Homo sapiens: one gene and its partners. The protein of the gene in region 6 purifies or fractionates together with the protein of the main gene of each other region. This does not show direct contact. Each region holds a gene or a part of one and is shown on either strand. Other genes may lie near its edges.

Evidence for each region.
Region 1: the proteins of PCMT1 (region 6) and TRAP1 fractionate together in Homo sapiens (co-fractionation; one large-scale study listed by BioGRID). This does not show direct contact.
Region 2: the proteins of PCMT1 (region 6) and ABI1 purify together in Homo sapiens (affinity purification with mass spectrometry; 2 studies listed by BioGRID and IntAct, with this or other methods). This does not show direct contact.
Region 3: the proteins of PCMT1 (region 6) and YKT6 fractionate together in Homo sapiens (co-fractionation; one large-scale study listed by BioGRID). This does not show direct contact.
Region 4: the proteins of PCMT1 (region 6) and KLHL42 purify together in Homo sapiens (affinity purification with mass spectrometry; 3 studies listed by BioGRID and IntAct, with this or other methods). This does not show direct contact.
Region 5: the proteins of PCMT1 (region 6) and RMC1 purify together in Homo sapiens (affinity purification with mass spectrometry; 3 studies listed by BioGRID and IntAct, with this or other methods). This does not show direct contact.
Region 7: the proteins of PCMT1 (region 6) and TIMP2 purify together in Homo sapiens (co-immunoprecipitation; one large-scale study listed by IntAct). This does not show direct contact.

What each region holds. Positions count from the first base shown.
Region 1 is NC_000016.10:3,658,525-3,662,024, forward strand, and holds part of TRAP1 (heat shock protein 75 kDa, mitochondrial isoform 1 precursor), read right to left. Parts: coding exon 3,463-3,500; intron 342-3,462; coding exon 269-341; intron 1-268.
Region 2 is NC_000010.11:26,766,959-26,770,458, forward strand, and holds part of ABI1 (abl interactor 1), read right to left. Parts: intron 3,388-3,500; coding exon 3,287-3,387; intron 2,035-3,286; coding exon 1,894-2,034; intron 1-1,893. UniProt on the Homo sapiens protein: May act in negative regulation of cell growth and transformation by interacting with nonreceptor tyrosine kinases ABL1 and/or ABL2. May play a role in regulation of EGF-induced Erk pathway activation. Involved in cytoskeletal reorganization and EGFR signaling.
Region 3 is NC_000007.14:44,203,978-44,207,477, reverse strand, and holds part of YKT6 (synaptobrevin homolog YKT6), read right to left. Parts: intron 2,911-3,500; coding exon 2,828-2,910; intron 1,094-2,827; coding exon 993-1,093; intron 91-992; coding exon 1-90. UniProt on the Homo sapiens protein: Vesicular soluble NSF attachment protein receptor (v-SNARE) mediating vesicle docking and fusion to a specific acceptor cellular compartment. Functions in endoplasmic reticulum to Golgi transport; as part of a SNARE complex composed of GOSR1, GOSR2 and STX5.
Region 4 is NC_000012.12:27,793,733-27,797,232, forward strand, and holds part of KLHL42 (kelch-like protein 42), read left to right. Parts: intron 1-3,500. UniProt on the Homo sapiens protein: Substrate-specific adapter of a BCR (BTB-CUL3-RBX1) E3 ubiquitin-protein ligase complex required for mitotic progression and cytokinesis. The BCR(KLHL42) E3 ubiquitin ligase complex mediates the ubiquitination and subsequent degradation of KATNA1.
Region 5 is NC_000018.10:23,520,511-23,524,010, reverse strand, and holds part of RMC1 (regulator of MON1-CCZ1 complex), read right to left. Parts: intron 2,421-3,500; exon of another isoform or gene 1,122-2,420; coding exon of another isoform or gene 1,105-1,121; intron 1-1,104. UniProt on the Homo sapiens protein: Component of the CCZ1-MON1 RAB7A guanine exchange factor (GEF). Acts as a positive regulator of CCZ1-MON1A/B function necessary for endosomal/autophagic flux and efficient RAB7A localization.
Region 6 is NC_000006.12:149,787,741-149,791,240, reverse strand, and holds part of PCMT1 (protein-L-isoaspartate(D-aspartate) O-methyltransferase), read right to left. Parts: intron 1,288-3,500; coding exon 1,183-1,287; intron 1-1,182. UniProt on the Homo sapiens protein: Initiates the repair of damaged proteins by catalyzing methyl esterification of L-isoaspartyl and D-aspartyl residues produced by spontaneous isomerization and racemization of L-aspartyl and L-asparaginyl residues in aging peptides and proteins.
Region 7 is NC_000017.11:78,852,477-78,855,932, forward strand, and holds the end of TIMP2 (metalloproteinase inhibitor 2 precursor), read right to left. Parts: intron 3,389-3,456; coding exon 3,191-3,388; 3' UTR 501-3,190; downstream 1-500. UniProt on the Homo sapiens protein: Complexes with metalloproteinases (such as collagenases) and irreversibly inactivates them by binding to their catalytic zinc cofactor. Known to act on MMP-1, MMP-2, MMP-3, MMP-7, MMP-8, MMP-9, MMP-10, MMP-13, MMP-14, MMP-15, MMP-16 and MMP-19.

The DNA of each region.
Region 1 (3,500 bases), on a different chromosome or scaffold from region 6:
TACAAAATTAGCCAGGCGCATGCCTGTAGTCCCAGCTACTCGGGAGGCTGAGGCAGGGGAATTGCTTGAACCCGGGAGGCAGAGGTTGTAGTGAGCCAAGATCGCGCCACTGCACTCCAGCCTGGCAACAGAGCAACACTCCATCTCAAAAAACAAACAAACAAACAAAAAGACAGGATTTTAGAGGAAACCGCTGTTCCACCCTGAAGGCAGGCTGGCAGGGCTGGTAGCCTGGGTCCCTGCAGTCATCCTAAGCTGCTGCACTCACCTGATCCACCAGCAGCTGAGCCAGGCCAGGCTCGCTTGCGCGCAGCTGATTCAGCTTCTTGATGAGCGCGTGCCTGCAACACAGAACCCACCAGAAAAAGCAGCTCAGTACCACGTGCTGTGACCCTCCCTTCATGTTTTGGGATTATCAGGATATTTAAAGAAGCACAGTAAGACTGTCTGTAGTTTTTTAAATAAGGTATGTTAATGATCATTTATAGATAATATCATTATATACCCAGAAAACCCAAGAGAATCAGGAGTGTCAGTATTAGAAAATGCTGTAAGGTAGCCAAACTCCAAGATTAATATACACTAAAGGGACAAAAGGAGCTTAGTACGTGAAGACATGCCTTGGTTCCTAGATAAATAATAAAAGAGAAGGGAGTAAGACCCACATGTTGAAACATATTATAGGGCTCTAGTAAATAAAACAGTTTAGGTCTGGAAAGGGGGAAGGCAAACAACTCCATGTAACGAGGGTGGACACTGAGTGTCTGATGAGGACAGTATTTCACAGAAGAGGGAGGAGACAGATCACTCCATCCAGCAGCACTGGGATGACTGGGAGCCATGCAGAAAACCATTTAGACCAGAGTAAATTCCAGAGGGATCAAAGATGACAAGCACAATTCTAGGGAAGAAATGTTTCATCATCTCAGAAGGGGAAAGCCTTTCCAAGCAAAACCACAAACCAAAAAGTAAAGAATGATTGACATATTTGACGTCAGAACAATATTTTTTTCTGCATAGGAAAAAGCATCATGTAGTATTTAACCTTAACATGAATATTATAATTTTTCACTTAGAAGTCTGATAAAACCGAGGGCTCTGGGGAACTGTAAATTTGTACAACCTCTCCAGAGGACAACTGGAGTCGGGAAAACCACATGTGGATGATATGCTGAGACTCAGCCATTCCATTTCCTAACTGCATCCCTTTAAACACTTTTTTTTTTAGATAGATAGATAGATAGATAGATAGATAGACTCTCACTCCTTCACCCAAGCTAGAGTGAAATGGCATGATCTTGGCTCACCGCAGCCTCCTGGTTTCAAGAGGTTCTCTTGCCTCAGCCTCCCAAGTAACTGGGATTACAGGCACCCACCACCACCCCCAGCTAGTTTTTGTATTTTTAGTAGAGATGAGGTCTCGAACTCCTGACCTCAAGTGATCCACCCGCCTAGGCCTCCCAAAATGTTGGGATTACAGGCGTGAGGCACCGCACCCAACCTAACAGAGGAAACACTTCAAATGCACATCCTCACATTTCTAGTCTACGTAGCTGGAAAAAAAGGACATTCTTAATATGCTAATGTGGAGGTCACCTAGTTACCCTAAGGGAGAAAAGCAAGGCAAGGACCCACTGCACAGCAAGTTCCCCCTTGGAAGCCCACGGGCGCAGCTGCCCACAAATGCACATAATCTCTGCAGAAATACAAAAGCCCTAATGCTGGCTGCACTGGGGACACAGGTAGGAGGAAATTTTCCCCTGTAAGCAGTTTTGAATTCTGAACTATGTGGACAGAACACCAAATTTTAAAACAAATGAAAGTGAAGCTGGCTGGGCACAGTGGCTCTCGCCTGTAATCCCACCACTTTGGGAGGCCAAGGCTGCAGTGAGCTCTGATGGCGCCACTGGTACACTCCAGCCTAGGTGACAGAGCAAGACCCTGTCTCCAAAAGTGAAGTGGCAACAGACAGAAACGAGCACTTCTGCAGCTATCTCACAAAACTAGTTTGCCACCAAAACTAGTTAAAGTGACCTGGTGTCCGCCTCACTGAGCTGCTCCAGCAGAGGCACAGGCATTCTGCATACTGGCGCTGCTGTGCACTGACAGCCATAAGCCAAGTCAGCCTTTCCCCAGGAGTGCCATGGCTAGGAAGATGCATCTCCCTCGCCTCCAGTATAATTTTAAAAGTTATGGTTGTAAAATGACAAAAGAAAAAAACTAGACATGTACTAAAGAACAAAACAAAAACTGGCTGGGGGTGGTAGCCCACACTTGTAATCCCAGCACTTCGGGAGGCTAAGGCAGGTGGATTGTTTGAGGCCAGGAGGTAGAAGTTGCAGTGAGCTGAGATTGCCCCACTGCACTCCAACCTGGGGGACAGAGTGAGACCCTGTCTCAAAAATTAAAATACTACTTAGGCTACATTGTGGGGGGGGTGGTAAGTCTATGGATTTTGATTTCCTTTTTGCTGTTTTCTATTTTTGGTAACATGTTTATGTAACTTCATTTTTTAAAAAATTGCTACATTCAAAATTTCCCCCAAAAAAGAAACTTCATATACAAGTTAGTTCATATACAAGTTAGAAAATGAAATTTTAAAATACCCCATAAGACACATCAAAGAATAATTCTTTAAAAATGGTACCAGAACCCTACAGAGAATGTAAGGTACCAAAGGATGTTAAAGACCTAAATAGATCACATTCATGGGTGCAAAGAAGTGATACTGTAAAAAGAAAGAAACTCAAAAGATACCTAAAGGCAGGTGAAAAGACATTTACAACAGATAAAGGGCATATAAAGAACAACAGGAAGAAACGAGGGAAATCTTACGGCTCAGCCACTGTCAGGGCTGGGGGGTTCTCGGTGCACCCTGGAAGCAGCTCCCACCACCGGGGCCACAGAGAAACCCACACAAGCCCCAGACACGTGGACAAGAATACTCAGAGCAGCCTGGCTCTCCACAACTTCTGACCAAGAACCACCGGAGGCCCAGCAGAGCAGAACGGAGCAGTCTGCTGTGCCGAGGTGGGTTTCTGCAGCGGACATTATTCGGCTATGAAAATGAACTTGTGGCAGCCCCTCTGCATGGGCAACCCTCATGCCAAGTGAGCAACGTGAGACTTCAGCAAACACCAAGATCCACGTACAAAGCTCAAAACAGGCAAAACTGAGCATGTCCAGGACACGCACAGGTGGCAAAGCCATAAAGCAAAACGAGGACATGGTCACAGGCTGGGATGTGGCTAACCTCCCAGGTGACACCTGGGGATGGTAAGGGGCTGGCCAGGTTCCATTTCACATGGGTGCAGCCTAAACTGCATACAGCTCCTTATAGTTACCCACATGTCCACAGGCCTCACGCACTTTTCTTCTGTGTCACATTCCACAACAAAAGAACACCACACACAGGATTCTGGGGAATCCCACAGGCTGGAAGAGCCAGGAGCGTGGCCTCACCTGGGGTTGATCTCCAGCGTGGGCTGCAGGAGCTGTGC
Region 2 (3,500 bases), on a different chromosome or scaffold from region 6:
CTGAGTAATTGCATCAGAAACCATATATATGGCCCACGAATCCTAAAATATTGACAATCTGGCCCTTTATAGAAAAAGTTTGCTGATCCCTGTTCTAACAGAATGAGCTCTTGAAAAAAGAACTATGCCCTATTGACAAATGCCTAGTATCTAATGAAACAACACTTAATAACTGCTTGTTGAATATGATTAAACTATGCTTCCACTATAGAGAAAAACTATACTTTGATCCAAGAGTTCAATAACAACAAAGAGAACAATTTTGTTCCTCAAAGAACTTGACCTGATACAGTAACTGCAGATATCAACTTAACAATTTGTTTACTAACAGCACCAATAGTAATAAATACCGCTTACCTAGCATCTCGCATCTTGATATACCCTATTTAGTGGAATTCCCATAAATCATTTTGATAAGTTATCTCTCATTTACCAACCTAAGAGTGAAGGCAAAAGAGAGGTTCCCTGCCCACGTTATTAAGTGAGAGAGAAAACTGAAGAATAAAACAAATTTGGTTATATAATAAATTTATCTGGTTTTATAAAGCACTCAAAAATTGAAGTGGCTATATTTTGGGGGAAGAAGGTCGAGGCGATAACCAGGAAGGAGCATGAGGGGCTTCTGGGTTGCTGGTAATGTTCCATTTTCTGATCTGGGTGATGGTTATATGAGTGTGTGTCCATTCATCAAGCTGTATACTTACTGAAGTGGATACTTTTCTGAATGCTTGTTATGCTCTGTAACTAAATTTTTAAAAACCCACCGGGTAATTGACTTTTAGGACATTTAAAAATAATAAATACAAGGCCAGGAGCGGTGGATCATGCCTGTAATCCCAACACTTTGGGAGGCCGAGGTGGGTGGATCACCTGAGGTCAGGAGTTAGAGACCAGCCTGGGCAACATGGTGAAACCTCATCTCTACTAAAATACAAAAATTAGCCAGGCGTGGTGGCATGCACCTGTAATCCCAGCTACTCTGGAAGCTGAGGCAGGAGAATTGCTTAAGCCTGGGTGGTAGAAGTTGCAGTGAGCCGAGATCGCGTCACTGCACTCCAGCCTGGGTGACAGAGCTAGACTCCATCTCCAAAAAGATAATAATAATATTATTATTATAACAACATATTCTAGTATACTGATTCTCTTAAAAAAATCTCCCTCAGATTTAAGCTTAATCTTCTTTCCTTCAATCTCTGAAAGTTTAAATCACGTTGTATAATTCCTATGATATTTAATCTTTTCTCCAAAAGTATTTGAGTGGTTTGCCTTGAATTTTTTTAAAAGAGCATTTTAAAACATTCTTAGGGCTGGGCACAGTGGCTCACACCTGTAATCCCAGCACTTTGGGAGGCCGAGGCAGGAGGATCACCTGAGGTTGGGAGTTGGAAACCAGCCTGACCAACATGCAGAAACCCCGTCTCAACTCAAAATTAGCCAGGCGTGGTGGCTCAGGCCTGTAATCCCAGCTACTTGGGAGGCTGAGGCAGGAAAATCGCTTGAACCTGGGAGGCAGAGGTTGCAGTGAGCCGAGATCGCACCACTACACTCCAGCCTGGGCAACGAGAGCAAAACTCCGTCACAAAAAAAAAAAGAAAAAAATTCTTTAGTCTTAACCCGTAGAGTCTGATAGAGTCTGTACCTCTATCAAAAGGAGGAAATACAAACAATCCATTAATAGTACAAATAGATGTTTTAAAAAGTTAAAAAAACAAAACAAAACAGAAGTTATAACACAAACTTACAGGAACATATATAATATTATTCCCCCAACTTTTACATTTTATATTAGCATTAGAGTGGCACCTCACCTTTACTCAGCACCTCCATAGGAGTTTGTCGCCAGTCAGTTACACCCACTTTAGAGATGTTGAGATACTCAACCTAAAGGCTTACCTGTGTGTCCTTGGTCTCTGATTTAAAGATGCTGTCCTGCCTGGACTATGCTGACTTCCAAGCCTAGCAGGACTGGTCATATAGTCATTAGGAACTGTTGGGGGTTTAACAGGTTCCAGGGTTTTATAAGGAGTATTCCGTCTAAAGGAGCATAGTGGAGAAAGGAATAATGAATAAAAAAGATAAAATTGTATTTTTCCCAAAAATATGTGAGTCTCCCTTTGTGACCATGTATACCAGGATTTAAAAATATATATGACAAAGTTTGTAATTTTAAAAAATATTCTTCACTGGGATATATGAATTTTGTTACTTTAACATGAAAACTAAAATTTGTTACCTTTTCCTAGGAAAAACATAGGAAAGGGTAATTTAAAGTCCTAACCTTATTTCTAAAAATTATGGTTATAATTTTTTAAATGCTCAATAATAGCAAACTTTAAAATGTACATTTTTCTCAGTACAGTCACCCATAAGCCACTGTTCTTTAAACAGGAAGCTAAATTTATTTACATAGGAAGCTGCAATTTATTCCCATCTCAATATGGCAATAAATGGAGATATACATTCTAATCATTACTTTCTCAATAAATGATTTCGACTATTCTGTTTAATAACTTCATTTTTTTTTTCAGGGGCAGAGGGTTTAATGAATAAAAATGAAAACTAAGACCTTCTTAAAAGAAGACTGATTGTTGAACAACCCCTCTGCCAAAAAATAAGAAATCCAATATAATATTTCCAGTATTAAGAAAAACAACCTTAAAGAAATATAATGCTTTGACAAGTATTCGCTATATTTAGTACACTGAGAACTAGGAAGGAAGAAGCCACTGTTATCTTTTCTACTTGCCCAACTGGCCTTCCCATGGAGCTACTCTAGTGTGAAGAGGCCTAAGATTACCAGCAGAAGCATAGTTACAAGTAAAGTGCATACTTTCCTAAAGTAAAGAGTCCCTAAGTCTCAGACACCAATAGGCGAAACAGAAGAGCTGTGGACTAAGCCATACTACACAAAAGTAGACCACTAGTCAAAGTTCTACAATATAGATACTGTAAACACATGCAAAGGCACCATTTGGAATACTCTAATCATTCCATTTAAAACAAACAAGTCAGATTTATATTTTTTAAAAATTAGATGACAAAAAAATAAATCATGCCATTTATACATACATAAAAACTTTCCTAGTACAGATTATAGAGAATATTACAAAGCTGGCAGATTCATTTGGGATTCTGTTCAGGAAAATAGGAATTAAAATGAATTTGTAAAAGGTAGCGTCACATAGAGAGGGTAGTGTGGCATGGATCCCATACACTTACTTAAGTCACAGAAACATCTTTTCCTTTAGCATATGAATTCTTTTGCAAAATGTAGTTGAATTCTTACCCCAGTGTTCCCCGGCCTGACATGGGAGGACTTGGCGGTTTCTGAGTAGGAGGATTTGTTCTCGACAGTGTGCCAGTTCTTGCAGGCTGGTTATTTCCATGCTAAAATGTAGAAAGAAATGCTTTTATTTTTATATCAAATTGTTCTCCTGGTGTTTTAACACCATGTATTATTTTTTTTAAATATCAGAATGTGAATTAAGGATTCCCAGACA
Region 3 (3,500 bases), on a different chromosome or scaffold from region 6:
GTGACCATCCAGGGCTGGGTAATGGATTGTAGCAGGGGATCCTACTGGCCAGTCTATCCTGTCGACTTGCTTGGAGAATTCATCTAGTACCTGCAAGACAAAGGAGACTCAACAAGCCTCCCACTGTGCACTCACCAGTGGTCTCAATGACAGGGCTTCACCCCTGAGCACCTCACCCTGAATGAGGCTCCTTGGCCTTCACAGCCCAGGAAGGAGGAATGAGGGGGACATATAATGGCAACAGAGAAAATCTAGGCTAAAGTTCTTTCCAAATTTTTATCATTAAAACATATCCTAAATATTCTGAGAATCAAAAGTATGCCCAGCCCGAGATGAACCTCACTTGGGGAGTAATAAAGGTATTTGAATTTTAAACTACAGATTTCCAGAAAAAAGGGGCACTGGTCCTCTAATTTTCCAAAGCAATTTTTTAAAAAAGAGAATTAGGTCCCCTAGATTTAAGAAACCACCAGATTCCATGTGTTTGGAGGTATTTTGGTGCTCTGGGGTATAGGATGAAGCCTCTGACTTCAAAGAGTTAATATTAGTAATTAGCACCGTACGCAAAAAAATTTAAAGAATGCTTAGGTGCTAAGCTCTGTGGTGCAACTGACTGACATCAAGGTAGAGGGATGCAGCAACTGCAGGAGGCAATGGGGAGAGTGAAGGCATTCAAGAGGGAGACTCCTTGAGCAGAAGCACAGGGGGCGAGAACACAAGGCACAGCTGTCTCCGAGGGTCCCATCCCAGAGAATAGATGCTATGACTCAGTGGCCTAGACCCAGCTCACATGAGGGACAGCACCGGGGAGGAAACCCATACAGGGATGCCAAATTGTCTCTTGGGTTGCAGGGAAGGGGGCTGAAAAATGTGTTGACTTTGGACACATCATTTCATCCCTTATGTCTCAGGGACTGCCATCAACCCCTGTCCCAGTCCATAAATGTGCCCATTCATCATCCAAGTCCAGGAGAGGCAAATAAAAAACTCACCTTCTCCAGCAAGGTAAAGGCCACCCGGGATGGGTATTCATTGTCAGCAATGACCACACCTGCAAGACTATCATTCCGGACGTAGACGTGGCACAGATAGTCTAAGGAGACAAGAGATCAGACACATGGATGCTGACATGAGGGCTTCAGACTTCTTTTAATCCCCCCAAATCAAAGCATCCAATGTTAGGCCAAATGAAGCCACTCGGAAGCTCAATAGCTCTGGGCAAGTCTTGTGGAGAGGCTTAGCAGCACAGCCCAATGGGCCACACACAGGAGCTTGGCCCAACGCCTGCTTTAGGACCAGTAAATACCCAGAGGCCCAGTATGCAAAGCCAGGGCTTAAAGAAACAGCCAGTGGTGCAGAAAACACACCCTTGACAACATGGCCCCAGGAGCATTTCCAAGTGTATTCCTTAAGCTCGGGTCAGGCCAAGCTATATCTTAGGGATCTGGAGCCCTTGGGGCTCTGTGCTGCTCCCAAACTTAGGGAACCCTGGACAAGCCAAGAGGCCTCTGCTTTCTTAAAAAATCTTTTCAGAGCAGCCAAAAGACAGGAAATTACCCCCCAGGGCCTCAGTCTTCCATATTATAGCAACCTGCTGGGTTTGCTCCACTCTGGTGGGTGACTGGGAGTAGGGGGGTTAGTCTAGAAAAAGATTAGCTACTGCCAGCTAAGGCCTCCAGAGCACTGTGCTAAAATCCTCATATGATTGAAAGGTACAGTTGTACAGGTCTTCCGCAAAATATTCACAATCCACAGGATTGTTCATTTCCATCACTTTGAAAGGATTCAGAGTTGATACAGCTAACCATATCCCCAAGGAAAGAGAAATGTAAGGATTACAGCTTACAAATAAGAACCTTCTTGTCCTTAAGGATCTGACCCAGAAGATTCCAATGCTAAACAACAGAAAAACAAATAAAAGAGGAGGGAATGATGGTGAGCCCCTGAAATCAGAAAAGAGCAGAGATAAATGAGAACAAGAATGAGGAGGAGGAAGAGGACAGGGGGTTGTCACCAATGCTCTCCAGATTTTGTATACCATCCCCAATTAAGATTCAAACATGGGGTCAAAGTGCATACCCTCCAAAGAAACTGAGAACCTGGTCAGTGGAGGAATTGTCTTTAAGTAATAAACGTGGGAAGGGCAGGCACAGTTTGAAGAACAGAGCAAGAACACTGAAATATTTGTGATGCGATTTCACTTCTATGATGTTAATAGCACAGAGATCCCACATAAAGTGTATATAGTCAATCCTGCCTGTATCATAACTGACATTTATATCATCAATTCAGTAACTCTATGTCACGTGACTTGAGGTTAGCATAAGTGTGAGATGATCTTTGTCCCTACCTGATGAAACTCATGTAACTCTTTCCTGATCTGTCTGTATAACATACACATCTAAATAAATGCCTAAACCTGAATTATCAGAAAGAAAAAATAGTTTTTTCAGATTCCTGATCAAAAAATCTACGATGCACAGAATACATATAGTACCTCAACAGTGCTAGCTGGAAATCCTTTTTTGAGGGGTCTGCAACTCTGAAGAGGATAGGGAAGAATACGATATGAAGGCTGCTTACTGCTCCAAAAGAGTCAGACCCTAATCTTAAATGAGTCTAAGTTTGAGGGCAATTTTATCTGGGAAGCTCAGACTTCAACAGTGGGCACAGAATTCTGCATAAATAGGAAAAGGAAGAGGTGGGAAAGAGAGAACAAGCTAGAGGAGGAGTAGGGTCCCAGTAGAAAGGAGAAAGCTGGGTGCTATGTGAGGTGAGGCATGGCAGCCAGGCCAGCACACGCACAGAAGTTGGAGGGTCTTCTTACCTTGTTCTTTGACAGAAGCTCTAGTGCCTTTCGATGAGCGCTCCACAATCAGTTGACTCGTGAAGGTCATGAATTCCTGAACGCTAAGAAACACAAAATGTATTTATTGCCTACTTCTTATCACCTTGTCCCCAACACAGTGGAAAGTGACCTCTGGGCTTATACATTAAGTAGACATTGCTTCTTGGTTTCATTCCTTTCCCTCCCATCCCTAGTAACAAACACTCTATAAATGAGCACAAATACTGATAATTATGAATTATCATCACCATGAAAGCTCCATCTGTTTGCTACCTGGCTCACCAAAACAGGTGAATTTTCTGGGGGGTTTTTCCACAGGATACAGTCAATTTTACATTTTGGTGAATGCATAATTTGGAATGCAATGGAAAAACAAGAGGCAGGTCCTGCTCTCAAGGTCCCAATAACTTCCAAGAAGCAGGACATTTATAAGAACTGCACTAGAAGAATAGTGTGCAAAAACTGTCAGGCAGAAATGCACAACCATTTATGGCTGTGTCCACATGACAGACCCTCGCAATGCCACATACACCCATAGTGAGTGCTGGCTCAGGTCTGCTGGGGCTCGTCCACAGAACGAGCGCAAGACACTCTGGATGGAACAAAAGGAAAACTGCTCATCCAAGACAAAGAAGTGGGAAATGGCTCATAC
Region 4 (3,500 bases), on a different chromosome or scaffold from region 6:
TACAGAAAAGGTGTAACCTGGCTCTTAGGACTTTAAGCCACATTATGGTAGTAGACCTGCCGTTTTATTTGACATGGTGAAATAAACTACCACTCCTTTGTGGTACCATATGGGCAGGACAGAGCTCTTCAACCCTGGCTAACAAGCCTGAAGAAGACCCTGTGAGGCCGCAGCAGCCATGGGAACTTCCCAAAGGACAGAAATCCACATGCTAACGTAGCATCCAGATAGGTGACAGAAATTCCTTCCACCATATCCAAATGTGTCCTGTTTTGGGGATTTATGTTAGGAAGAAGTTAAAATGTAAAGTATTTGATGAACATCTGATTTATTTCTTTTTAGAATAAGTCGAAACATTAATTCAGTGGGGAAGATGGTGGGAGGTGTGTTAGTTTCCTGTGGCTGCCATAACAAATTAGTATACACTTGGTGGCCTAAAACAACAGAAACATATTTTCTTATAGTTCTGGCGACCAGAAGTCAGAAGTCAAGGTGTCAGCGGGGCTGTGCTCCTTCTGAGGGCTCTAGGGGAGGAGTCCTCCTTGCTCCTTCTAGTCTCTGGTAGCTCGGGGCTCCTTGGCTGGTGGCTCCATGATGCCCCTGCCTCTGTCTTCATATGATGCCCCTGCCTCTGTATGTATCTGTGGCTTCTCCCTTTCTGTCTAAGGACAGTTGCCACTGTTGGATTTAGGCCCCATCTAGGTAATCCAGAAAGATCTTAAGGTTTTTAACTTAATTACATCTGCAAAGACCCCCTTTCTTTTTCTTTTTTCCCTTGAGATGGAGTCTCACTCTATTGCCCAGGAAATAGTGTAGTGGCACAGTCATAGCTCATTGCAGGCTCAACCTCCTGGGTTCAGGCGATCTCCCACCTCTGCCTCCCAAAGTGCTGGGATTACAGGCATGAGCCACTGTGCCTGGCCCAAAGATCCTTTTTTTGAATAAAATCACCATTCACAGGTTCTGGGGATTAGGAATTTGACATATCTTGTTAGGGACCACCATGCAACCCACTGAAGTGATGTGTATATTTATGTATTTAAGGAGAGGCAAGACAAAGAGAAGTGACCTTTTTTTTTTCCCACTCCAAGTTTTCATTATTTGTCGAGCTATTCCCAATGTCCCTCTCTGGTGACTCTCCACTGAAGATAGTTTTCAACTTTTTCTTTACATATAATTGAAAAAAAAAAAAAGAAACTTAGTAGTCATTGCTTTGACCTTCAACACTGGTTGTCAGGTTACAGTGATTATAGGTTTAGACTAAGCCATGGGCCCCTCAGTCCCCCTGAACTCCTGTGTTTATGTAGTAATCCCCCTCTCTCGTGTGTGTGTGTATATGTGTGTGTCTTTTCTTCTAGGAAAGTCAATACTCCCAGTTATTTACCTATGAGCAATTCTAAGAATTCTGATTCCTCTCTAGGTTGAGTAACACAGACTGCATCTTGTGGGCTGACATAACGCACATATGTGCTTTGACTTCTCTTGTAACCAAGAGCTGTTCAACACTGACAGGCGGCACTGTAACCCAAAGAGTACTTTACTGGTAGATTTCCTAGTTTTTCCATGACCCTGGCTGAGCAAATGTTCTTTAGATTTGACCTAGAAAACCCTTCTTGTGTGTTTTGTAACCTCACAAGCCACTGCTAATGTACCTTCTTCACTTGGGCCACCCACCGTGATTTCTGTCCTGGATTCCCTGAGCCAAATACCCATGATGGGATGGTTCAGTGATGTGGATGGATGGCTATTTGTGTAAGGGCCGAAAACTAGTTTTCTAAGATGGGAGAGCTGGGCAGTTACTTATACTCTGAAGCCCTTCTCTTTCTCTGCTGGGGCTTTCCCAGCAGTTCCTAATAGTTCCTTGTATTTCAGATAAGTCATCATGATTGTTAGGAAAAAAAGAAAAAGTTAGTTTTTAGCCTCCTGACTTCTTAAGTCAAGTGAGACTTTTAAAATTTAGTAAATAATAGCTCATTATTTTTATGGTAGCTATTTGATTATTTTAATTCTTTAGCAGCACTGAAGAAATTCAGAGAAGTTCAATAGAGAGTAATAGCTATAAAGGGAAGAAGGGTGATTTGTCAAACTTCAGAATCAACTTTAAATGTAAAAACAAAAAGATCATTCCACCAACTCAGGCCACCTTGTTGAGTGAAGAGAGAAAACATTTACAGAACACCTGGAAAGACCTTCGGGCCTGGAGCTGAGAAATACGTGGAAGCCTCACTAGAATGAGTTCTTTATTGGTTCGGTGGACAGCCAGGTTACTAAGGAGCACTTTTTGTTAAATAAGTGACCAAAATCCCCTTGGGCCATCTCCTAAAATGATCTTTATCATAATAGCTACAGTAAAAAGAAAGAAGGAGAGGTATTAATGTGGGTGGAAATCAGGACAGTTTCCTAATGCCGTGGCTTACAATTCTGAGATTTCTCCAGGCATCAGGACATGTGCGCGCACAGGACTTGGCTCTCTTAGGAGATACTTCAGTTTGTATCAGATGTGGCTGTGGAGGGTGCTCTTTAAGCATTGCTAACTATGAGTGGGTCCCTCTCAGAAGAAAGGACTGTAAGAGGTATGAAACTTCTGAGAAAACGAGCTGTCTTCTCTTACCAAGCGCCTGCAGCCGTCAAAATGCTGTAGGCTTTAGTCGTCTGCCAGTTCCCAAGCTGAGCTGTCTCCTTCATGGATAGGATTTGTTTGTTTAGAAACAACAACAAAGTTCATTCTGTTTATAACTCAGAGCATTTGTTTTTTCTGCTGAGGCTAAAATACTTGTTTATTCTTTCCTAGAGGAGAAAAGAAAAGAGAACAATTAAAAACAAGAAAAACAAAACTAGATATTCTAAATTTCACAAGCGTTTTTCAAAAAGAGACGAGGCCATATTTTTCCTTAAAGAAAATTACTTTTTTTTTTGAGAGAACAGGATCTCACTCTGTCACCCTGGCTGGAATGCAGTGACATGATCACAGCTCACTGCAGCCTCACCCTACCATGCTAAAGTGATCCTCCCACCTCAGCCTTCCAAGTAGCAGCTGGTACCATAGGTGCACACCACCATGCCTGGCTAATTTTTTATTTTTTTTAGAGACAGGAGGTCTCACCATATTGCCCAGGCTGGTCTCGAACCCCTAGGCTCAAGTGATCCTCCTGCTTCAGCCCACCCAAAGAGTTGGGATTACAGGCATGAGACACCATGCTTGGCCGAAAATCATTATTAATTAAAAATGTCAGAGCAACCTTTTATCTAGACGTTGATCTTATCTACGCTACAACTGTCATCTTGTGAGGGACATGGGAAATGGGAAAAGGGAGAGGGGAGGACCTTTGTTAGTGTCTCTCTGGTGATATAATGGGGAAACTAAGGCTAGGCATGGTAAAGATCCTGTCTTTAAAAAAAAACAAAAAAAAAACTGGAAACTGAATTGCCAAGTGGTTCTGTGGCTTGTTAGAAGGCCGCAGGTGAGACTTTGCTGCCTTTCTCCTGACTTGTAACGTTGT
Region 5 (3,500 bases), on a different chromosome or scaffold from region 6:
TCAAGGAAGAAATGAACTGTTCCGTCTCACTGAAAGCACGTACGGGGAGGAAGGGGGAAGGAGCTAACAATCCAGGAAAATCTCACCAAGAAAAAGAAAGCATGTCAAGGCTTCAATCACTGTGGTTTGGGTTATTTTTAATAACCAAAGATGACTCATGATCGTTTACATATGCACGTTAAGGAACTGAGAAATTTACTTGAAGGATTCAAAATCAAATACCCAGATCATCCACGGAGAATGTTTCAAATAAATGTGGCTTGTAGCTTAATTATCTTTTTTTTTCTTTAAGAGAGGGTGTTGCTCTGCTGTCCAGGCTTGAGTGCAGTAGTTGATCATAGCCCACTATAACCACGAACTCCTTGGCTCAAGTGGTCCTCCTGCCTCAGCCTTCAGAGTAGCTAGGACTACAGGCATGTGACCATGCCCTAACTTTTTTTCTTTTTTTTTTTTTTTTTTTTTTTTTTGTGAAGACAAGGTCTATGTTACCTAGGCTGGTCTCCAACTCCTGGGCTTAAGTGATCTGCCCACCTCAGCCTCCCAACATGCTGCGATTACAGGCATGAGCCACTGTGCCCAGCCACTTAATTATCTAAATAATTAGTTCGATTATCCATTGCATAGAGTAGGTCCAAGCACAGTGAGCTCGTCTGGGAAGCAGACCCCCAAAACCTCACATGACAGGGACCGTTAACAACCAGTTATACTGCTCATGAGCCATGCAGGCAGCCCTACAAGCTAACCATGACTCCTGGTTCTGTTCCAATTACCCAGGTACAATCAGAAGGCAGGTTTCAATCAGCTGGTCAGAGAAAGGGTCATTGTGAACAGACCACCCAAAGGTAGGAAAGAGCCCAGGCAGACAAGCTTTGGCGAAGAGCACTCGCGCTTTGGACCTAAGTGTCAAGGTCTGCGCCGAGTGCACAGCCCTCACCTTTGGGTGGCTGACCTACACACTGTCAGGTGAGAGCTTTCATTTTTAAGGCCCCCCAGATGATCCTAATATGTAGTCAGATTGAGACCCACTGTTCTAACAGGCCCAAAACAAAAAGAAAAAGGGTGGCTGACTCTTCCCAAAAGTGCTGGTTATATCTTTCTCAACAGGCCCATTCAATTCCTGAGCACGCCCACCCAGTGGCAGCACAGTGGGCAAGACACACGGATGCATCAAGCCGCCAGGGCTCACAGCCCAGCAGGAAACAAAAGGAGAGTCACTAACCTCTGAAAATGCTTTGCAGCCCACACTACCTAGATCCCCAGACCCTCAGTGGATTCCTGATTTCCTCCTATTGATCTCTGCACGGGCTGTTACTGTGACCAGGCCTCGCATCTGTTCCCTTATGACCAGATGGTTAGAACCTGATGCCTCCTAACTGGTCCTGTACCACCGGAACAGAGCTGAAGGTTCTAAGCCAGGGGTGTCCAATGTTTTGGCTTCCCTGGGCCTTAAGAGGAAGAAGAAGAATGGTCTTGGGCCACACATAAAATACACTAACACTAACAATAGCTGATGAGCTTAAAAAATATCATTAAAAAAATCTCATAATGTTTTAAGAAAGTTTAAGAATTTGTGTTGGGCTGCATTCAAAGCTGTCCTGGGCCACATGTGGCCCACAGACCGTGGGTTGGACAGGCTTGTTCTAAATGTTTAGTTTTTTTCCCCCAATTCACCAGCAGTTACCTTCATGCCAAGTGGGCAGCAGACACAAGACAATCACTTGGCAAAATCTATTCTTTCAATACTAACATTATTTACAAAGGAAAAGGAAGAAGCTTGAAAGAACACAGAAAGCCAAAAGACCTAATTGAACGTCTGTTAAGAACCAGCTCCTTCCTCCAACTGTGCCAGAAAGTAACTAAGCTTTTGGCTGGTCCAGCAAGACAGGGCAGTCAGGCTGACAATGGTGCTCTTGCTGAACTTTCAGCCAGAGTGCGATTCTGAACTCCCGGGTGAACGGTACAAGGAAATCCTGACTGCAGGCTGGGTCAACCCGCCCAATGCCATCGGACAAAGAATAAAACATTACTACTAGGGTTCCAAATGTGAGCCATCTGACTACGTCTTGCACACTGAAACCTCAGACTAGCCAATTCTGCACTCCAATCTCCTTCAAAAGAGAGCCGGGAGAGACTGCTGCGAGGGACAGGCACAGAAGAAAGACCCTGTGAGAACACAGTGAGAAGGTGGCCATCTGCAAAGAGGCCTGCCAGGAGGGAGGCCTCAGAAGAAAGCAAACCTGCAGACATCTTGATCTTGAACTTCTAGCCTCCAGAACTGTGAGAAAATAAAGTTCTGTTTAAGGAAAAAAAAAAAAGAGAGAGAGTGTGTGTTGAATATTCTTTCAGTTCTATCTTAAAATCAATTACACTGGAAAAAGGCAAAACGAAGCAAATAAATGACTTCTTTCCCTTTTCCTGAATTCCTGACCTCCACTCTTCTGACTTCCCAACCCCACCTCTCCAGACAGAAGGAGGACTGATTTGGGTAAGCCTAAGAGCCACAGCCGAAGCACTTACTGTGACTGTCAGTCCCAAAGAATGCAATATTCATCATCACTGTCACACGGAATGTGAGAAAGAGAAAAGTGATCCCAGGTTACAGTAACAAACCTACAGCCAAAGTTAATTTCAGCGTTACAGAGCTAAGGCAAACAGAAAACGTTACGGGTGTATTCAATATTAAAACATATTTCACCATCAACGGCTAATCAAAACTATCCATTCTAAAGCTCAGGGAAGATAAATTATTCTATTTCCTCCCAAGGGAGATTCATCTATCTTAGAAAATGCTTTTTTCACAACATAATTTTAGCTTATAGGATCAGTAGTAGTTGCATTTTTTAAAAAACTAGAACAGGCTGGGCATGGTGGCTCACACTTGTAATCCTAGCACTTTGGGAGAGCGAGGCAGGCGGATCACCTGAGGTCAGGAGTTCAAGACCAGTCTGGCCAACATGGTGAAACCCCATCTCTACCAAAAATATAAAAATTTGGGCCAGGCGTGGTGGCTCATGCCTGTAATCCCACCACTTTGAGAGGCCAAGGTGGGCAGATCACTTGAGGCCAGAAGTTCAAGACCAGCCTGGCCAACATGGTGAAACCCCATCTCTACTAAAAATACAAAAAAATTAGCTGGGCGTGGTGGTGCACGCCTGTAATCCCAGCTACTTGGGAGGCTGAGGCAGGAGAATCACTTGAACCTTATCTCCTCTCACAAGTATTTAAGCGATTGAATACTTGGTTCAATTGCTTGAATACCTCACAAGCTTGAACCTTGTGACAGACAGGTGGAGGTTGCAGTGAGCCGAGATCATGCCACTGCACTCCAGCCTGGGCAACAAAGTGAGGCTCTGTCAAAAAAATAAATTTAAAAAAATATAAAAATTAGCTGGGCACGGTGGCACACACCTGTAATCCCCACTACTTGGGAGGCTGAGGCAGGATAATCACTTGAACCCAGGAGGTGGAGACTGTAGTGAGCCAAGATCACGACACTACCT
Region 6 (3,500 bases):
GGGCAGGGACAGTGGAGAGGGTGCTGGGAAATGAGTCCCCTGGGAGACGGGGCCCAGCTACGATGCTAAATATCTCAGGCTCCTGAGTGACTGGATTTCCCTGGGACCCTCAGACATGTCCCAGGGCCCGGTGGGGAAACTGAGGCCTGTACAAGGAAGTAGAATTCTGAGTTGTCGGGGCTAAGCCTGACCCCCTCTCCATGCTAAGCCCACCCCCCACACTGTGCCTCAGTAGGTTTTTGTTGTTGTTGTTGTTGCCCAGGCTGGAGTGCAGTGGTGCAATCAAGGCTTACTGCACCTCCACCTCCTGGGCTCAAGGGATTTTCCTGCCTCAGCCTCCTGAATAGCTGGGACTGCAGGTGCTCCACCATGCCTGGCTAATTTTTCTATTTTTAGTAGAGATGGGGTTTCACCACGTTGGCCAGGCTGGTCTCGAACTCCTGGCCTCATGTGATCTGCCTGCCTAAGCCTCCCAAAGTGCTGGGATTATAGGTGTGAGCCACCGCGTCTGGTCCCTCAGTAGGTTTTAAGGAGCCTCCAGCCTTCCTTCTCCCCTTCTGGGCCTGACCAGCTATACTGCTCTGTCTCCCCCAGCCACATGCCCCACCAAGTACTGTAGAGAGTCCCCTACCCAGGGTCCCTGCACCATGAGATAAGGTGAAATACCAACTGTGGACCAAATGCAATAAAACCTCTGTTTTTAAGAAGAAAAAAAAAAAAAAAAGAAAAGAAAACCAGGCTTATTCTATTCTTTTCTGCCAAATCAGAACTTGGAAGAAGGTAGTTTGGGAGCTACTGGCCACCATCTTGTGATTACAAGGGTAGAGCTTACCGGATAATGACACCAACATGTGGAGGAAAGTAAAGCCAAATCAAGAAACAGAGAGAACCCTATCGTCAATAACAACATCTGCTCTTCTAAATCCAGCCACACAACAGACCGTATACACCCCTAGACTTTTCTGTTATATGAACTAAATAAACTCCCTTTTAGCTCTGCCAGTTTGGGTTGCATGTTCTGTCACTTGCAACAACAACAAAATCCTAAGTGATGCTCATTCCAACTGCTATCCTAATAGAATTAACAAACAAATAAACATGAAAACCACTAGTTAAAAAAACATACAGCCAAATCATATAATATTCTTCTGTTGGGGCCAGAGTGAGAAATAAAACTCTTACCATACGTGCAAAACATGCAGTAAGGATTCCACTTCCAGATCCTACATCAAGAGCTTTAGCTCCTTCATGCAACTGATCAAATAGAAGTTCTAGCGCATATGCATGCTGCCAAAAGAAAACAAAATATTCATTAAGACTAAAGTACACACATCATGGTATATAAATAAAGTTGCCAACTTTCTACCAATTTTTCTACTATTGTCATCTACCAAGATAACCAAGTTATCTTGGCTATCTGCCCAGGTATTACTTAAGTAAACTGTTTGATTAGAATTCTTACATTCAGATCATGTGTTTCAGTAATTTTAGACCTCCAGTGTGTGAATTTTTAACTTTTAATTAATTCAGTAAAAAAATTAAAAGATTTATAAGTGAAAAGTCTCCACCCTACTCCCATTTCCAACCATCCAGGTTTCACTCTGTAAAGGTAACCAATATTACTAGTTTCTTGTGACTCCTTCCAAAAAGGAAGGAATAGATTCTTTGCATATATAAGCAAATACAAAAATACAAAGGCTAATTTTGTATTTTTAATAGAGATGAGGTTTCTCCATGTTGGTCAGGCTGGTCTCGAACTCTCGACCTCAGGTGATCCGCCCACCTCGGCCTCCCAAAGTGCTGGGATGACATACATAAGCCACCACACCCAGCCAGTATTCTCATTATTAAAAATAATCAGATCAGGCTGGGCGTGGTGGCTCAGGCCTGACATTCCAGCACTTTGGGAGGCTGAGGCAGGTAGATCACGAGGTCAGGAGTTCAAGACCAGTCTGGCTAAGATGGTGAAACTCCATCTCTACTAAAAATACAAGAAAATTAGCTGGGCATGGTGGCAGCCACCTGTAATCCCAGCTACTCGGGAGGCTGAGGCAGAGAACTGCTTGAACCCGGGACGGGGAGATTGCAGTGATCCGAGATCATGCCACTGCACTCCAGCCTGGGCTGTAACAGAGCGAGACTCCATCTCAAAAAAAAAAAAAAAAAAAAAAAAATCAGATCCAATAGCAGTAAACACATTTACTACCAGATCTTGGTTGATAAAAATACCCATCCATTAATCTATAGTGATAAATTAATACATCATTCTATACATATATAAATGAAAAATAGGGAAAACCGTTCCCAACAAATATATAGATACATAATGAATGCACATAGAAAAAATTAAGAAAATCAGCCTTTGGGCAGCCATCTCAATAATAACTGATTGATTCAGGTAAAAATCATAAATGGAAGCTAAAACTAGTGGACTAACATTTGAAAAATAAACAGGATATTTACATAATCTCAAAGGGTTTGCCCCAGATAATTATTAATCACAAAAGGAAAAATAGTAATTTTACAATGGAGTTCAGAAAAAAGTTCTCCAGTGGAAAAACTGGGTCAACACTACCTTAATCAGATGATCAAAGTTAACACCACAATTATGGGACACACTGACATCAAATGCCTCTGCTAAGATACTTCATTTCTGGGATATGCCAGGCAAAAATGCATAACCTATATTGAATTATGAGGAAACATCAAACAAACCCAAATTGAGGGACATTATACAAAATAAATGGCCCATATTCGTAAAAATTTTCAAGGTTTTCAAGGTCATAAAAGAATAAGGAACCATTTCTCAGTCATTCTTTAAAGGAAACTAAAAAGACATGACAATCAAATAAAACTCACAATCTACTATTTTCTTTTCCTATAAGGAATATTATCAGAATAATTGATGAAATCTGAATAAGGTCTATAAATTGGCTAATAGTGTTATATCAATGCTGACTTCCAGATTTCAAAAATTGTACTATGGGTATGTAAGAGAATGTCCTTATTTTTAAAGGTAAAGAGCATTGGCCGGGCACAGTGGCTCACACCTGTAATCCCAGCACTTTGGGAGGCCGAGGCGGATCACGAGGTCAGGAGATCGAGACCATCCTGGCTAACACAGTAAAACCCCATCTCTACTAAAAATACAAAAAATTAGCTGGGCGTGGTGGTGGGCGCCTGTAGTCCCAGTTACTTGGGAGGCTGAGGCAGGACAATGGCGTGAACCCGAGAGGCGGAGCTTGCAGTGAGCTGAGAACGTGCCACTGCACCACTGCACCCCAGCCTGGGCGACAGAGCAAGACTCCATCTCAAAAAAAGTTAAAGGTAAAGAGCATTATGCCTGTAATTTACCCTCAAAGAGCTCAGAAAAACGGAAATATAATACACACACATACACACACACACACACACACAGAGGAGAGAGGGGATAAAGGGAGAGAGAATAAATGATAAAGCAAATGGTGAGATTTGCTTTACCAATGGTAAGACTGTGTGGA
Region 7 (3,456 bases), on a different chromosome or scaffold from region 6:
CTCTGCTGCCCCGTCTCTGCCACTGCATCGCACTTTTCTTTTCTTTTTTCTTTTTTTTTTTTTTTGAGACAGGGTCTCACTCTCTTGCCCAGGCTGGAATGCAGTGGTGCAATTATAGCTCACTGCAACCTCTGCCTCCGAGGTTCAAGTAATCCTCCTATCTCAGCCTTTTGAATAGCTGGGACCACAGGTACATGCCACCACGCCTATTTTTTGCAGAGACAGGGTTTTGCGAAGTTGGCCAGGCTAGTCTCGAACTCCTGGGCACAAACAATCCACCCGCCTTGGCCTCCCAAAGTGCTGGGATGACAGGCGTGAGCCACCACACCTGGTCTGCATCCCATATTTGACTCAGAGCTCACTGGCCTTGTTTCTCTGGAGGACACAGGGCGCCCCCTCCCGCCGGACAGGAGAGGCTCCTTGCAGAGGCTGATTCCCATTCTTGAGCTAGGAAGTGGCCGTTCTGAACATCGGATACAGCCACACGGAGAGAGCCCACGTTCTCTTTGATAATACTGTTTATTGTCCACGGACCGAGCGATTGCTCAAGAATGATACAAAGCATCAGAGACATGCGCAGTCTGCTTGTCAACTTTCAACAACTCTTGTGTGTTCCCAGCACCGGAAGGTCTCAGACTTCATATTCCAGCATAAACACAGTGCTCCCCTCCCCCAAAAATCCAAACGGAAACAAAATCAACAGAGCTTTAAATTACGGCAGCAAGTCCAATATTTCTTAATACTTATCAAGCAAAGATTTGAAAATAACTACAATGTAAACTTTATTTTAAATATTTTGAGTTGCTTGCAGGATGAAAATAGGAGAAGAGAGCTGTGCTTAGAACATAACATATAAATTAAACGATGCCAAATGGAGAGCCTTCTTAAACTATATATATATTGCCACTATTTATTGTGAAGGTATTTGAGCGGCTTCCTCTGTCAGCTGCCACCCGGCTCTTCTTAACCTGTTTTGTTTTCTGCTCAGCACGGTTAAAAGACCAACGTGTGTGGATCAAATATAAAGGCCACACCTTTCAGACCGAACCTACTCAAAGATCCTTTACTTTGCAATAATTTGAACTGGAGAACCAAAGACGGGAGACGAATGAAAGCAAAGATGCTCAAAGAACCAAAGGAAAGACCTGAAGGAATCCACCTGCATAGGCCACGCGTTCCACTCTGGGTCAAATGCTTCCACGATGCAGAAACCTTTTTTTAAAAAAGTGCAAGTCTAATACCTACCAAGGGTAATAAAAAACACAGCACAGGAATGATTACAGCTGATGTCAAAAACAAACCAAAACATTAAAAAAACAATCAGCAGAAACAGGAGTAAATGTTACATATGATATCACCATACAGGAAGCGAACAGGGGTGGGGTGTTATATGGGTTGGAGGGGTCTGGTGGAGTTGTATATACTGAAATCACATGGACTGGTCCATTATGACATCTTACCAACTTTAGGTCACTGTACAGCATGAAAACGCCCGTGGGGCAGGGGCCGATTCCTGGATACCCTCCCAGTCTGCCCTAGAAAGGGAAGTCATCAAGATCTGTGCTGACCAGGTCCCGGTGGGCATGGGGGCTGCATGCCACTTGGGGGTCAGGAGTCTTAACAGGTGCTTTGGGGTTGCCGCTGAATAGAACAGGCTAAGGTGGCTTTGGAAGCATTTTGCAAGACCACGCCCAGGCCGCCAAGCTTCGGTTTCATTGCGTGTGTATGTTTACATAATGTGCCTGTATATCGTCAGTTTATCTTTACAACACAGGTGGGAGGAAACAAGAGATTCTCCTTATCATTACCGAGAAAGTTCTTCCTATCCTAACCCCCATATCACTGGCTTCAGGAAACCACACTGAGGGAACACATAGGTTCCCTAGTTCCCTAGGAAGTTTCTTAGCTAGGTAATCTTTGTCATTTAAGAAATACAAGCAGAAGTTGGTATATCTGCAACTCAGGTTCACCTATCATCTGAGAATTCACCTTTAGAAAAATAAGATGTCTCTTAAAACAGGCCATAGTGTCCTGGAGGCTGAGAAAGAAGTGAGTGTGTCACCAAAGCCACCTACCTCCAAAATCCTTCCCTTCCTAGGCTGGACTTCTTACTATGCTTAGCTGGCGTCACATGCAGAAAGCCCCGTGCAGAACGATGGCTGTCAGTCTTTGAGGGAGGGAACACTAAGCCTGGGAGGGCACAGCAAGACCCAGCTTTTTCTGTCCTCAGGATGTGCAGATGGGGAGCCCAGCCGGGCCCTGCACACAAGCCCGGATAAAGCAAAGCTGTGCAACTCAATCCAGGTGCCTGATGCCAGAACAGGCAAGAAGCAATGGCAACCGCAGCAGCTAGGGAAGGGACCTTGAGGGCAGCCACCGGCCCCGGACAGCAGCCTCAGGACAGGACCTCACCGATTCCTCCTGCAAGCTGGGGAGCATGTGGGCGGGGGGGGGGGGGTGGGGGGGTGGGTGCAGACCAAAAAGACTCAGCTGAGGCTGGAACGCAGCTCAGCTGGGGTTTCTCGCTCCCATTTCTACAAGGCTCAGAGGGAGGCTCCCACTGGAATTCTGAGGATTAATAGGATTGATGGGGCTCCTTCAAGAACTAGCCACTGGTTCCAGGCTGCCCTTGGATGTGGGGGGAGTCAGGTGCTGGGAGCTCATGGTGGGCACCGGGGCGATGGGAGCACTTGCCAGGGGCAGGGAGTGCAGAGGCGTGGAAGCTGCAGAAAACAAGGGCCATGTCCCTCTCAAGATGAAAGGGACCTGGTAGGCCTGCTACACAGTCTTGCAACGACCCTCAAAAGTTTCTGCAAAATGCACATTTCCAGGCCCTGCCCTAACCCAGCTGGGAGATCCCTAAGTGCTGCCTGCTTGGCATCTGTGACGGTGCCAAGGCAGGGACTGGGAGGGAAGCCGCGTGTCCCAGCCCTGCCTGCACCCAAGGATCGAAGCCCCAGACACATAGTGCCTGGCAGAGGGAGGATGGGATGAGGACCTTGGACCCACGTCTCCCTCCAGACCCACAACCATGTCTAAAAGGAGAAGGGGGGAGCAGAATCATATTAATTTGGACCCATGGGATGAGTGTTTTATTCATGCTGTTTCCAGGAAGGGATGTCAGAGCTGGACCAGTCGAAACCCTTGGAGGCTTTTTTTGCAGTTGGCCACAGGGGCGTTGGAGGCCTGCTTATGGGTCCTCGATGTCGAGAAACTCCTGCTTGGGGGGCGCCGCGCCGCGGTACCACGCACAGGAGCCGTCACTTCTCTTGATGCAGGCGAAGAACTTGGCCTGGTGCCCGTTGATGTTCTTCTCTGTGACCCAGTCCATCCAGAGGCACTCGTCCGGGGAGGAGATGTAGCACGGGATCATGGGGCAGCGCGTGATCTGGGGAGGGGCACACGGAGGGGGACGGAGTCAGGGACCCAGGAAGGGGTGGGCAGAGGCTGCTCTGG